Regions from separate parts of the Homo sapiens genome. Here region 2 is linked to region 1. The links come from fine-mapping of genetic effects on gene expression. A gene starts in region 1. The other region holds a variant in brackets. All regions are shown on one strand. Distances are from middle to middle.

Region 1 (5,368 bases):
GACCTTCCTCCCAGTCTCAGAGAACCTTGAGACAGCCCCTCTGACAGCCACAGAGGTCCCTGAAGTAGCCCTCATTATAAGTGGAGAATCCAGATAGCCCCTCTGCTAATCGTGGACCTGGGAGAGCCCTTCCCCACAAGTCACAGTGATTGCTGAGAAAGACCCTCCGCTGGCAAAAGATCCCTGAGATAGACCTTGGAGGATGGGACCCTGAGTTAAACTCAGTGAAATCAAGAAATTCAGATATAATTCCTTTTTTGGCTGGGCGTGGTGGCTCATGCCTGTAATACCAGCACTTTGGGAGGCCGAGGTGGGAGGATTGCTTGAGGCCAGGAGTTCAAGACTAGCCCAGGCAACACAGTGAGACTCCCATCTCTACAAAAAAATTTAAAAATTAGCCAGGCATGGTGGTGCATGCCCATGGTCTCAGCTACTTAAGAGGCTGAGGCAGGAGAGATCTCTTGAGCCCAGGAGGTAAAGGCTGCAGTGAGCTGTGATTGTGCCACTGCACTCTAGCCTCAACAACAAAGTGTGATCCTGTCTCCAAAATAATAATAATAATTATAATTGTTATGATTATTCCTTTTTTGATCAGGGAGATCTTGGGCTAACTCTTCCCTAGGTCACAGAAAGCTCAGACAGCCCTCTGACAATCATGAAGATATCAGGGTAGTCCCTTAAGAGTGTGCAAACACTACAGACAGCTCCTGTGATGTGGAGAAACCTGAGGTATAGACCCTCAACTGATCATGGGGAACTTTGAGATAGTCCTTCTACTCAACTCACAGAAAGCCCTGCCATTGGCCGGGCTCAGTCGCTCATGCCTGTAATCCCAGCACTTTAGGAGGCCGAGGCGGACGGATCACAAGGTCAAGAGATCGAGACCATCCTGGCCAACATGGTGAAACCCCGTCTCTACTAAAAATGCAAAAATTAGCTGGGCATGGTGGTATGAGCCTGTAGTCCCAGCTACTCGGGAGGCTGAGGCAGGAGAATCTTTTGAACCGAGGAGGTGGAGGTTGCAGTGAGCCGAGATCGTGCCAGTGCACTCTAGCCTAGTGACAGAGCAAGACTCCATCTCAAAAACAAACAAACAAACAAACAAAAAAGAAAGGACTGCCATTGCAGGACTATTGATCATGGAGAGCCCTGCCCTGGTGTGAAGAAACCCTTGAGGCAGACCTCCAGGTAGACTACATGACGCACAGGGATCCCAGAGCCAGCACCCAACTTGCAAAGAGAGTTGGAGAGCCTTTCTCGCAGACCTTGCTGCCAACAGGGATCTCTGATGCATCCTTCCTATATTTCTAGTGCAAGAAAATTCATAAGATAGCCCCTAGGGAACAGAAACTCCTGAGACAGCCTCCTTAGTGTGGGAAGAACTTCAAGGTCCATAACATAGGAAAGATGCCTTCTGATGTACAGAGATGCCTGAGATAACCCCCGGAGAAGAGAGGCTGGAGGCTGGAGATAGCCCCTTTAGGAGATCGTAGAAACACAATTACCTCAGTGAGGTACCCTGGAAGAAAACCACTCATGTGAAGAGACTCATGAAATAACCTACATGGAAACCCCTGATGTAGACCCCCCCACTAAGTATATGGCAAGACCTCTGAGATATTGACTTGGGAACAAATAGCTCAGATACTCCAGTGGAAGGAGAAGGTCACTGAGGTAGCCCTCAGGGAAGAGATACCCTAGAGACAGCATGTCTGGTGTGGAAGAGCTCTGAGAGGAGAGTCCAGAGATGTCTCTCTGAAACAGGAAGACTTTCTTCTTCTTCTTCTTCTTTTTTTTTTTTTTTTTTTTTTTTTTGAGACAGAGTCTCACTCTATTGCCCAGGCTGGAGTGCAGTGGCATGATCTCAGCTCACTGCAACCTCCACCTCCCAGATTCAAGTGATTCTCCTGTCTCACCCTTCTGAGTAGCTGGGATTACAGGCCCATGCCACCACGCCCAGCTAATTTTTGTATTTTTAGTACAGATGAGGTTTGCCATGTTGGCCAGGCTGGCCTCAAACTCCTGATCTCAGGTGATCTGCCCGCCTTAGCCTCCCAAAGTGCTGGGAATTACAGGCATGAGCCACAGCGCGCAGCCAATATGGGAAGACTTCCACAACACTTTGGTGTAAGCTGATTACTCAAAAGGCCCCTGAGATAACCCCTAATACCAGGTCACACCCAGCACAGCCTTACTTCTTGGCAATGTTGAGCATCTTCAGTTTCTTCCTCATGCGTGGCCGGGAGGTGGCGGAGACAGAGGTATCCACGAGGGAGGAGGTGGATTGTGACACCTGGGAGAATGAAGGCGGAGATGGGTGAATTGCTAATTCAGACCTTGGAGAAGAGGCAGACGGATCCAGGGGGTCTCCATCAAGGAAGGAGCGGTGGCGGACACTAAGAAGTGTAAATAGGGAAGGGGCGCGGCCTCTGTGTGGTCAGGGCGGACCCCAGGGGTCCCGGACTCACCTTCCGCATAATCTTCCGGCCATAGAAGAGCACTTTGTCCCTCTTCCGGAACCGATACCGGGGGCCATCCGGGGCTGGGGTTTCTGGGGATAGGTGGGGACAGGGGCACTCCGAGCTCTGTGCAGACTCCACCCTGCCAGAGCTGGGGTACCGCGAACAGACGCCAGCAAATCCCCATCTCTGCCGCCTCGGGACCCGGGCATTTGGGCCCCCCACCATACAGCCTCCCAAGAGGGGCCCCTCGGGTGCTCACTTGGCACTCGCAGCCTCCGCACCACCAGGAGGATGAGCACGGCCGTGACCACCACCGCCACTCCGGCCCCGATCATCACGCCAAGCACCTGAGGGACGAACGGCACTGGCTGCGCACCGCAAATCCGTCCCGCCGAGCCTTCCCCGGGCGCCAGGACGTCCTGGAACCCATCCCTCTCCGCCACCTTCGCCCCCGAGGAGTTCGTAGCCAGCCCGTGACTCGATGTCCCCATCTGCAGAATGGGCCAGTGCTGCTCCCTCCCCGGGGGCGCGACTCTTCCCTGAGGCCCGGCGGCCCGCAGTGCATGCCGGGAAACGTAGTTCCGCCCGAGCGGACGCAGCGCGTTATCGCCAGACCACGTAATGCGCGCTGAGCACGCCGGGAGTTGTAGTCCTCTTGGCGCCCCACGCCGGCACCTACCCGGTCTCCGCCCCACCCCTTACCATTCCAGTTTGCAGCGGAGCCTCCATCGGTTGATTCCAGCTGGACGGCCGATCTGGTAGCCCGGAGTCCTGGGAAATCAAGGAGTCGAAGGAACCCGTGCAAGTCGTCAATCTGGGCCCACCTCTCCCCTGCCTCAAGCCCTGCCCCCAGCTCAAGCCCTGCCCTCTGGGGTGGCGGGGGAAGCGTCTCCAGCTGCCAGGGGCGAGGCTAGAGGGGCGCTGCGGGACTAAGGGATGGAGCAAACCGACCTCTCGGCCCTGGCCAGGAGATGAGGCGGGTCCCCGGCTTCCTGCTCCCTTCGCCTACGCGTAGGGCCTACCAGACGCCCGCCTGTCCAACCCCACCCCGGGGCCAAAGGCCGACCTGGTACCCACTGTCAGCAGCCTGCAGGCAGGTCCCCACAGGGCACGGTCCTCTGCACCTGGTGACTTCCTCCCGGGTCACTGCCCTCTGCAGGGTTGATCAAGCCTGACCACCCCACCCCCCAGGCCGCACCCCCTACTCCGTCGAAGACTGAATGCCCCACCCCAGGAAAACGGGCCCGCAAACCGTGGGGTCCGGGAGTGGGCACCTAGATACTCGGCTCCCGACGCAAGCCTGCCCCGGGGAAGACCCAGGAGCTGGGAGGCACGGGAGTACTGCCGGGGCATCCGCGGAAGGCGTCTGATACCCACGTTTCAGAAGAGTCCTGGGATGCTTGGGGTGGCGTGGGCTTGCAAGGCGCTGCTGGTTTTTGCCGGGGATTTACTATCACGTAGTAGTGAAGTTATGGGGGCTCTATGGCACAGAGCATCACTGGGACTCCGGGACCGATGGTGGCGCCATTGCTGGGAGGCGTAACCAGAGACGCTGGGATTAGTGGGTGGGGATGCGGGGTCACTGGAAAGTTACTGAGATTCTGAGGATTACAATACTACTGCTGGGAAAACCAGGAGGTGGGTGGGCACATTCCTGGGGTGCTTATGAGAGCGGGCCTGGGGAGGGCGTCCGGGCTCCTTGGAAGATACTGAGAGATGCTGGAATATTACTGGGATTTTTCTGGGAAGCTGAGGATGTTTCTGACATCGCTAGAATATTAATGGAAATTCGGGGGCCGGGAGATAGGAATCCCGGAGACTCCGAGTCGTTACTTGGAAAATTCCTGGGTGGCCGGTCCTCTTCCACCTCAGGGCACAGCTGGCTACCGGTGTGGAAACACCTGCCGAGACGTGGGGGGTATGGGAACATCAGAAAGTCTAGAGTTAACAGGAATCGGAGGACAGATCGTGGGAAAGCGGAGGCTCGCTAACGACCCTCGAAGGGACACCCCTGCGAGGCTAACGGAAACCCAGACTCACCCAGGGGCCGCAGCCGGGGTCCACTCCGCGCCAACACCGCTAGCGTTCCGCCCGGCTCCGCAGGCACGGCCCCTTTAAATTATTCACTCCTAGTCGCACCGCAGTCCCTCCCGACCCTCCCACCCCTCCTCCCCGCGCCATGCTTGGAAGGCCGACTGAGGCCGCCATGCTGAGTGTGGCCGCGCCTTAAAGGGCCTCACACCGCTTAACGCAAGGACTGCTCCTCCCGCTAAAAATGAAAACGACACATTTATTTTCCCTTTTATTCAACACCCTCCCCACCCAGTCTCCCCGCCCCCAAGGGTCCGACACGAAAGGTCCAGGCCCTCCTCGGGCGCGACAGGGAGCCGATCCTTAAAAGCAAACCCTACAAATAAATAAGCGGGGTCGGGGGCGGGGGTCTCTGCAGTCCAGGGCCTACGGTCCAACGGCAGTCAGGTCGAATCAATTCACCAGCAGCGAATGCTCCTCCGAGGGGTCCCTGGAGGAAGGAAGCAGGGAAGAGGGGCGTCAGTTTTCTCTGGCTCGCTCCCCTTTCCCCATTCCCTAACCTCCAATCTGAATGTGCCAGACCCGGGACTCGAACCTTCCGCAGCAGCAGAGAAGGCTGCAGGCCGAGCCGCTCCCGCGGCGGAACTTGCCGGAGGTGGGGCTGTCCTGGCACTGTGCGATGTAGGCCTGCAGCTCGCTCTCCTCTGCGCCTGCGCCGCCGGGATGCTGGGGAGAGAAGCCGGGAGGCTCAGCCTGAAAGTGGCTCCCAACCTCCAAGGCCCTTGAAGTCCGCCCTCCCCTCCAGCCATATCTGCATCGCTTCCCACCTCCGGGCCTTTGCACTTGCTGGGCCTGCTCCACCCGTTGTTCCACAG
Region 2 (5,368 bases), 21 kb before region 1:
TCCTGGAACTGTGGCAGACATTTCTGCTTCATCACTATTCTCATTCCCACCAATGCAGAAATGGCAGTAGAAATCACTATACAGTGCTTCCAGGGGTGCAGCTGGCCTATAAGGAGAAAGTTCTTACACAGCACATGCACAGCCACACCCCTACTACATCCCCTGCAGACATCACCAATTGATCACTGATCTGTTTTCCAGAGATTCCAGATGGGATTCCTGGATTCCTCCTGGATTCCTCCCCCTCATACCACTCTGGGCTTTAAGTAGCAAAGCTTAGCCGGACCACCTATGCAGGCACCATGCCACTCCTGCCCACTCACATAGATCTGGTCGAACTTCCCAAAGTCCATGGTCTTGAAGCAGTCGATGGGCGGGCGCAGGTACTCGCAGTAGGAGCTGGACTTGACAACCTCTAGCTGCCGCACACAGGACACGTAGGCCAGGCGGGACTGGATTTCAGCCATGTCTGGAACCTTTACCTTGTCAGCCCAGGGATTCAGCCGCTTCCACAGCAGCCACCAGCCGGACAGGCTGTCCCCGTAGGTGCTGAGGTCCGTCTCATCCTGGCTCCCCACGTCAATGGCGATGACCGTTTTGGCACCCATGCTGCGGGCGATGTCCGCTGTGGGGCCAGGGGGGTCAGCGGGCTGCTCCCCTCGGGGGCCCGGGGCAGAGATGTTCAACCCAGTCCCACAGATGCCATCATGCAAATGATCACGCAAAAAAAAAAGAGAGAATACCCACACATGCAAACACCATGCTGTCATGCACAGACGTGCAAATGATGCAACTGAAGTTGAGGAGGGGGGTCAGGTGTTGGGAGGTTTTGTTTTATTTTCTGAGACAGAGTCTCACTCTGTCGCCCAGGCTGGAGTGCAATGGCACGATCTGGGCTCGATGCAACCTCCACCTCCCGGGTTCAAGCAACTCTCTTGCCTCAGCCTCTCAAGTAGCTGGGATTAGAGGCATACACCACCACGCCCAGCTAATTTTTGTATTTTTAGTAGAAACCGGGTTTCACCATGTTGGCCAGGCTGGCCTCGAATTCCTGACCTCAAGTGATCCACCCGCCTCAGCCTCCCAAAGTGCTGGGATTACAGGCATGAGCCACTGTGCCCAGCTCAATAAAGCTTTATTTATACAATCAAACAGAGGGCAGGACTCAGCCTGTGGGCCATAGTTTGCCCACCCCTGGCCTACAAGATTGTGAGCATGTGTGCAGTTGGCGTACATGTCTGTTCATATATGCACACTTCTGGGGTGTGAGATTTTAAGTTGTGTACCTGCCCGCTTCTCACCTGCACCCATAAAGGTGGTAGGCATGACTTAACTCGGTCAGAGGTGCCGCATCCTATCTACGTGTGTGCACATCCCTGCGTGTTTGAGGGAACGTGCAGGACAAACGGGACAGACTGGCATGCGTTGGCAAATGCCCTATTTCACTGACACACGTGTTCATCTGTGCACATGTGCCTGTGTGTACACGTGTGTGTAAGCCCTACCTGCCCCTGAGAGAAAGCATGTGCATATATAGCTGGTGTGCACACGAGTGTTGCATTCCACCTGCATGTCCCCTGATGTGTGTGTGGACGTGTGCACCTGTCCCTCTTGTACGTACATCCACTTGTGCTTAACACAGCACGCCAGCAGGTAGATGTAGATTTCTTTCTTTCTTTTTTTTTTTTTTTGAGACTGAGTCTTGCTCTGTCGCCCAGGCTGGAGTGCAGTAGCATGATCTCAGCTCACTGCAACCTCCAACTCCCAGGTTCAAGTGATTTATCTGCCTCAGCCTCCTGAGTAGCTGGGATTACAGGCACACCCCACCAGCCTGGTTAATTTTTTGTATTTTTAGTAGAGACGGGGTTTCACCATGTTGGCCAGGCGGGTCTCAAACTCCTGACCTCAGGTGATCCACCCACCTCAGGCCTCCCAAAGTGCTGGGATTCCAGGCTGAGCCACCGCGCCTGGCCAGAATGTAGATCTCAACTGCACATGTCGCTGTCCACAGGCACATTCATGTATCATTTTGTGCAAGTGATCGTATGTGTGCGCATGTGTGTCTGCACCCCTGCATGGGCAGCTTGGGCATGTGTCCCGTCATCGAGCCTGTCTGTGTGTGCCCACGCGTGTGCGTGTGTGTGGTGCGGGAGGTGCTTGCGTGTGCGGGTGGTGCGGGCGGCCACTTGCCTGGCAGATTGTTGATGTAGCCGCCATCCATGAGTAGGTGCCCGTCCTTGGGGTCGCACAGCGGGGGCAGGTAGCCCGACAGCGTCATGCTGGCGCGCACGTACCGCCACAGGGAGCCTGCGCGGTGGGACACACAGACACAAACACGCACAGACACGCTCAGACACGCCGGAGGCCCAGCCGGCCCGATGGGCTCGCTGACCTGGGACGTTGTTAACGTAGCACCCGTCCACCAGCAGGTGCCCGTCCTTGGGGTCGCACAGTGGGGGCAGGTAGGGGCAGTAGGAGGCGCTGGCCCGGACGTAACGCCACACACAGCCTGCGGGGATGGCGTGAGGGGGGTAAGGCGTCCGACGAGTCTCCCTGCTCCCCTCCCCCAAGGACGGACGTACCTGGGGTCTCCGGGGCATTAGTGGGTGGCGGTTAGTGGTCGGTGATCGGGCCAGGGTGGACGGTCACTCGTGTTAACAACGTCCCAGAAGCTCAGCGGCCCTCCCGGAAGCATCCCCCCAACCCCACGTG[G/A]CGTCAGCGGTTGCTGCAGGCTGGGCGGGGACACCCACCATCTTTGTGGACTCGCATGGCTGAGGCGGTGATATCTGTGGTCACGTTGAAGTAAGGCAGCCACAGGTCCTGCGGGGACAGGGATCGAGGTGGGGGAGGAGCAGGGGGCTCCTCCGGGGAGGGGTAGGCAGGGCAGGGGATGAGGTGGGCCTACCTCAATCTGCTTATCCTGGAAGACCCGATGGATGCTGCGGTTAAAGGCAGACCCAGTGAACATGGAGGTGACTGGGTACGTGAGGTCCAACACAGGTTCCAGCACCGAAGTCATGCTCTAGGGACAAGGGGCCAGACAGGGTCAAATAGGAGTTACATGGGGTCACAGATAAGGTTCATCAATAGGGGGTGAGCAAGCAGCACTTAGGGGCCAGGTGCAGCGGCTCACACTGGTAATCCCAGCACTTTGGAGGCCAAGGCGGGCAGATCACTTGAGGCCAGGAGTTCAAAAGCAGCCTAGCCAACATGGTGAAACCCCATCTCTACTAAAATACAAAAAAATTTGCCGGGCTGGTGGGGCGTGCCTGTAATCCCAGCTACTCATGAGGCTGAGGCGGATAAATCACTTGAACCTGGGAGGTGGAGGTTGCAGTGAGCCGAGATTGTGCCACTGCACTCCAGCCTGGGCGACAGAGCAAGACTCAGTCTCAAAAAAAAAAAAAAAAAAAAAAAAAAAGGAACACTTAGGGATGATGTGGTCATCCAAGGCCATCCACAAGGTGGTCACCAAGGGCCCTGGGTGCTCTCGTTGGGGGTTATGGGTTAGGGTCAGTAGACAGGAGGTCCCAAAGTGGTTACCCAGAGTCCTAGAAGCTTATCTATAAAAGTCCGGACAGCTGGGGATCATAGATTTAATCAGGAAGGGTCACCCTGACCCCGGAGGCTCCCCCATGGGATCAGGTTAGGTTGGAACCACGGGTTTTATGGCACTCCTGGGGTGCAGCAATCCCTCCTCGCAACACACACCTTGGCCCACTCCCGGGCCCGCTGCTTCGTGCGGCTGGCGCTGCGCTCCTCCGCGTACAACGCTCCGATGAAAGAGCCAATGGACGTGCCGCCCACCAGGTCCACGGGGACCCCCGCCTCCTCTAATGCCTTTAGTACTCCGATGTGCGAGCAGCCCCTGCCGGGAAAATGGGCCCCAGTGACCCGCTAGGCCCCACCTGCAGGAACTCCCCTGCCCCTACCTCCTCCCACCTCCCGCACTGCTAAGGAACAAAGGACCCGCCCCTACCCACGGGGTCTCTCCCGGAGGGGAAGCTCCACCCTCGAACACCCAGGCCCCGCCCCCACGGTTTCTCCCAGGAAGCTCCACCCTCGGACATCCAGGCCCCGCCCCCAGAGAGCAAGCCCCGCCCTCACCTGGCCCCGCCCCCGCCTAGCACAAGGGCAATGGTGTTCCCCGTGAGCACCCTCGCCAAGCGGGAGAAGTCGCTGTGCCGGTCCGCGCGCCTGGAGAAAACCTTCTCGTAGAGCTCATGCTGGGATGGGGGAGATAGTCGCGACCCAGGAGCATGAGGGCGGGGTCCGGCGGATCCCCCAGGGGTACCCTGACCTTCGAGCCTGTCCTCAGCCCTCCCAGGCCCCGCCCCAGTCTCCCAAGCCTCGCCCACCAGCCACGCCCCTAGAAGGTGGGGGCCGGCCCGCTCCTCACCAGCTTGGCAGGGCTGCGGCGCGAAAAGAGGCGGCGCGGACAGCGCAGGTGCAGGTGCCCCGAGCACCAGCTGCGCATATTTAGCCACTCCACGGTGCGCGTGGGGCCCGCGCCCTCCTCTCGGTGGAGCAGGACTAGCTGCTTAAGGGCGCGCACAGCCGTGTTCTCCAGCATCTGCTCCAGCTGCGGAATACGGACGGCTGAGGTCACCAGCCGCCCCACCACCACCTGGCCACACCTGGGTCCCTGATCGCCTACCCCCATGGCGAGGGTGCACGTGGCCTGGTGCAGGCACGGGAGGGCAAAGGACGGGACCCGAGGTGGGTGAGATCAGGGGGCACGGGCTTCCGACCTGGCCGAGGGTAGGCTCCTGGTCCCCCAGGCCCACAATGAGGATGCAGTCGGCCTGTCGCAGGCAGCGCACGGTCCAGGGCGTCAGCGAGGCGTCCGTCTGGTAGAGTACGATACGGTGTGCATCCTCCTGCTGGGCCAGCCACCCTGACAGCCGGAACTCTTGGATGCTAGGGTGGGAAGGGGGCAGCGTCATCCTGGGGTTGGCCTGGGGTCAGTGTGCTCCCCGAGACCACATAGCTCCGTTGCTGGGAGGAACTTAGACACCCAAACCCCCACCACGGAAGTCCGTGCTCCGGTGGGCAGATTCACACCACTGCGAATCTCCCCATTGACCTATGGGTAAGACGCAGGCTCCGTGGTTGGAAGCCAAGAACTTGAACTCAGGTCTGAAAGAATTTGAGGCTCCAGGCCCACCCACCACCCTCCCCACTCCCTTCTGCAACACACACCTATCCAGTGCGGAGGCCCCCAGGCGTGCCCGGATGATGTCACTGTTAAGGAGTAGCGTCGGACCTAGGGGTAGGTGGGGAAGGGAGGCTGGGAACCATGGTCCACAGGGCTGGGGCCTAACTCAGAAAAGAATACCCATTACCCCGCCCCTGTGGCCCTGTTCCC

The links. PIP is the estimated chance that this variant, and not a neighbour inherited with it, causes the effect.
Region 2: its variant is the best candidate, but not a certain one, in a credible set for the expression of PNPLA6 in testis (GTEx, PIP 0.81).

What each region holds. Positions count from the first base shown.
Region 1 is chr19:7,533,374-7,538,741 of GRCh38, reverse strand. It overlaps PNPLA6 (patatin like domain 6, lysophospholipase), which reads right to left and starts at 3,025. Exons shown (of 32, transcript NM_001166114.2): 1 at 2,722-3,025; 2 at 2,469-2,551; 3 at 2,196-2,293. The coding sequence starts at 2,953. MCOLN1 (mucolipin TRP cation channel 1) reads right to left here. Exons shown (of 14, transcript NM_020533.3): 13 at 5,089-5,219; 14 at 4,733-4,983. The coding sequence ends at 4,947. RefSeq lists an enhancer at 2,951-3,190.
Region 2 is chr19:7,554,107-7,559,474 of GRCh38, reverse strand. PNPLA6 (patatin like domain 6, lysophospholipase) reads right to left here. Exons shown (of 32, transcript NM_001166114.2): 20 at 5,203-5,266; 21 at 4,752-4,920; 22 at 4,400-4,582; 23 at 4,108-4,226; 24 at 3,712-3,868; 25 at 2,906-3,022; 26 at 2,751-2,820; 27 at 2,191-2,307; 28 at 324-625. Among named protein-coding and RNA genes, the nearest start is that of PNPLA6, 21 kb to the right of the region's middle. The variant G/A (reference allele first, on the strand shown) is at 2,713.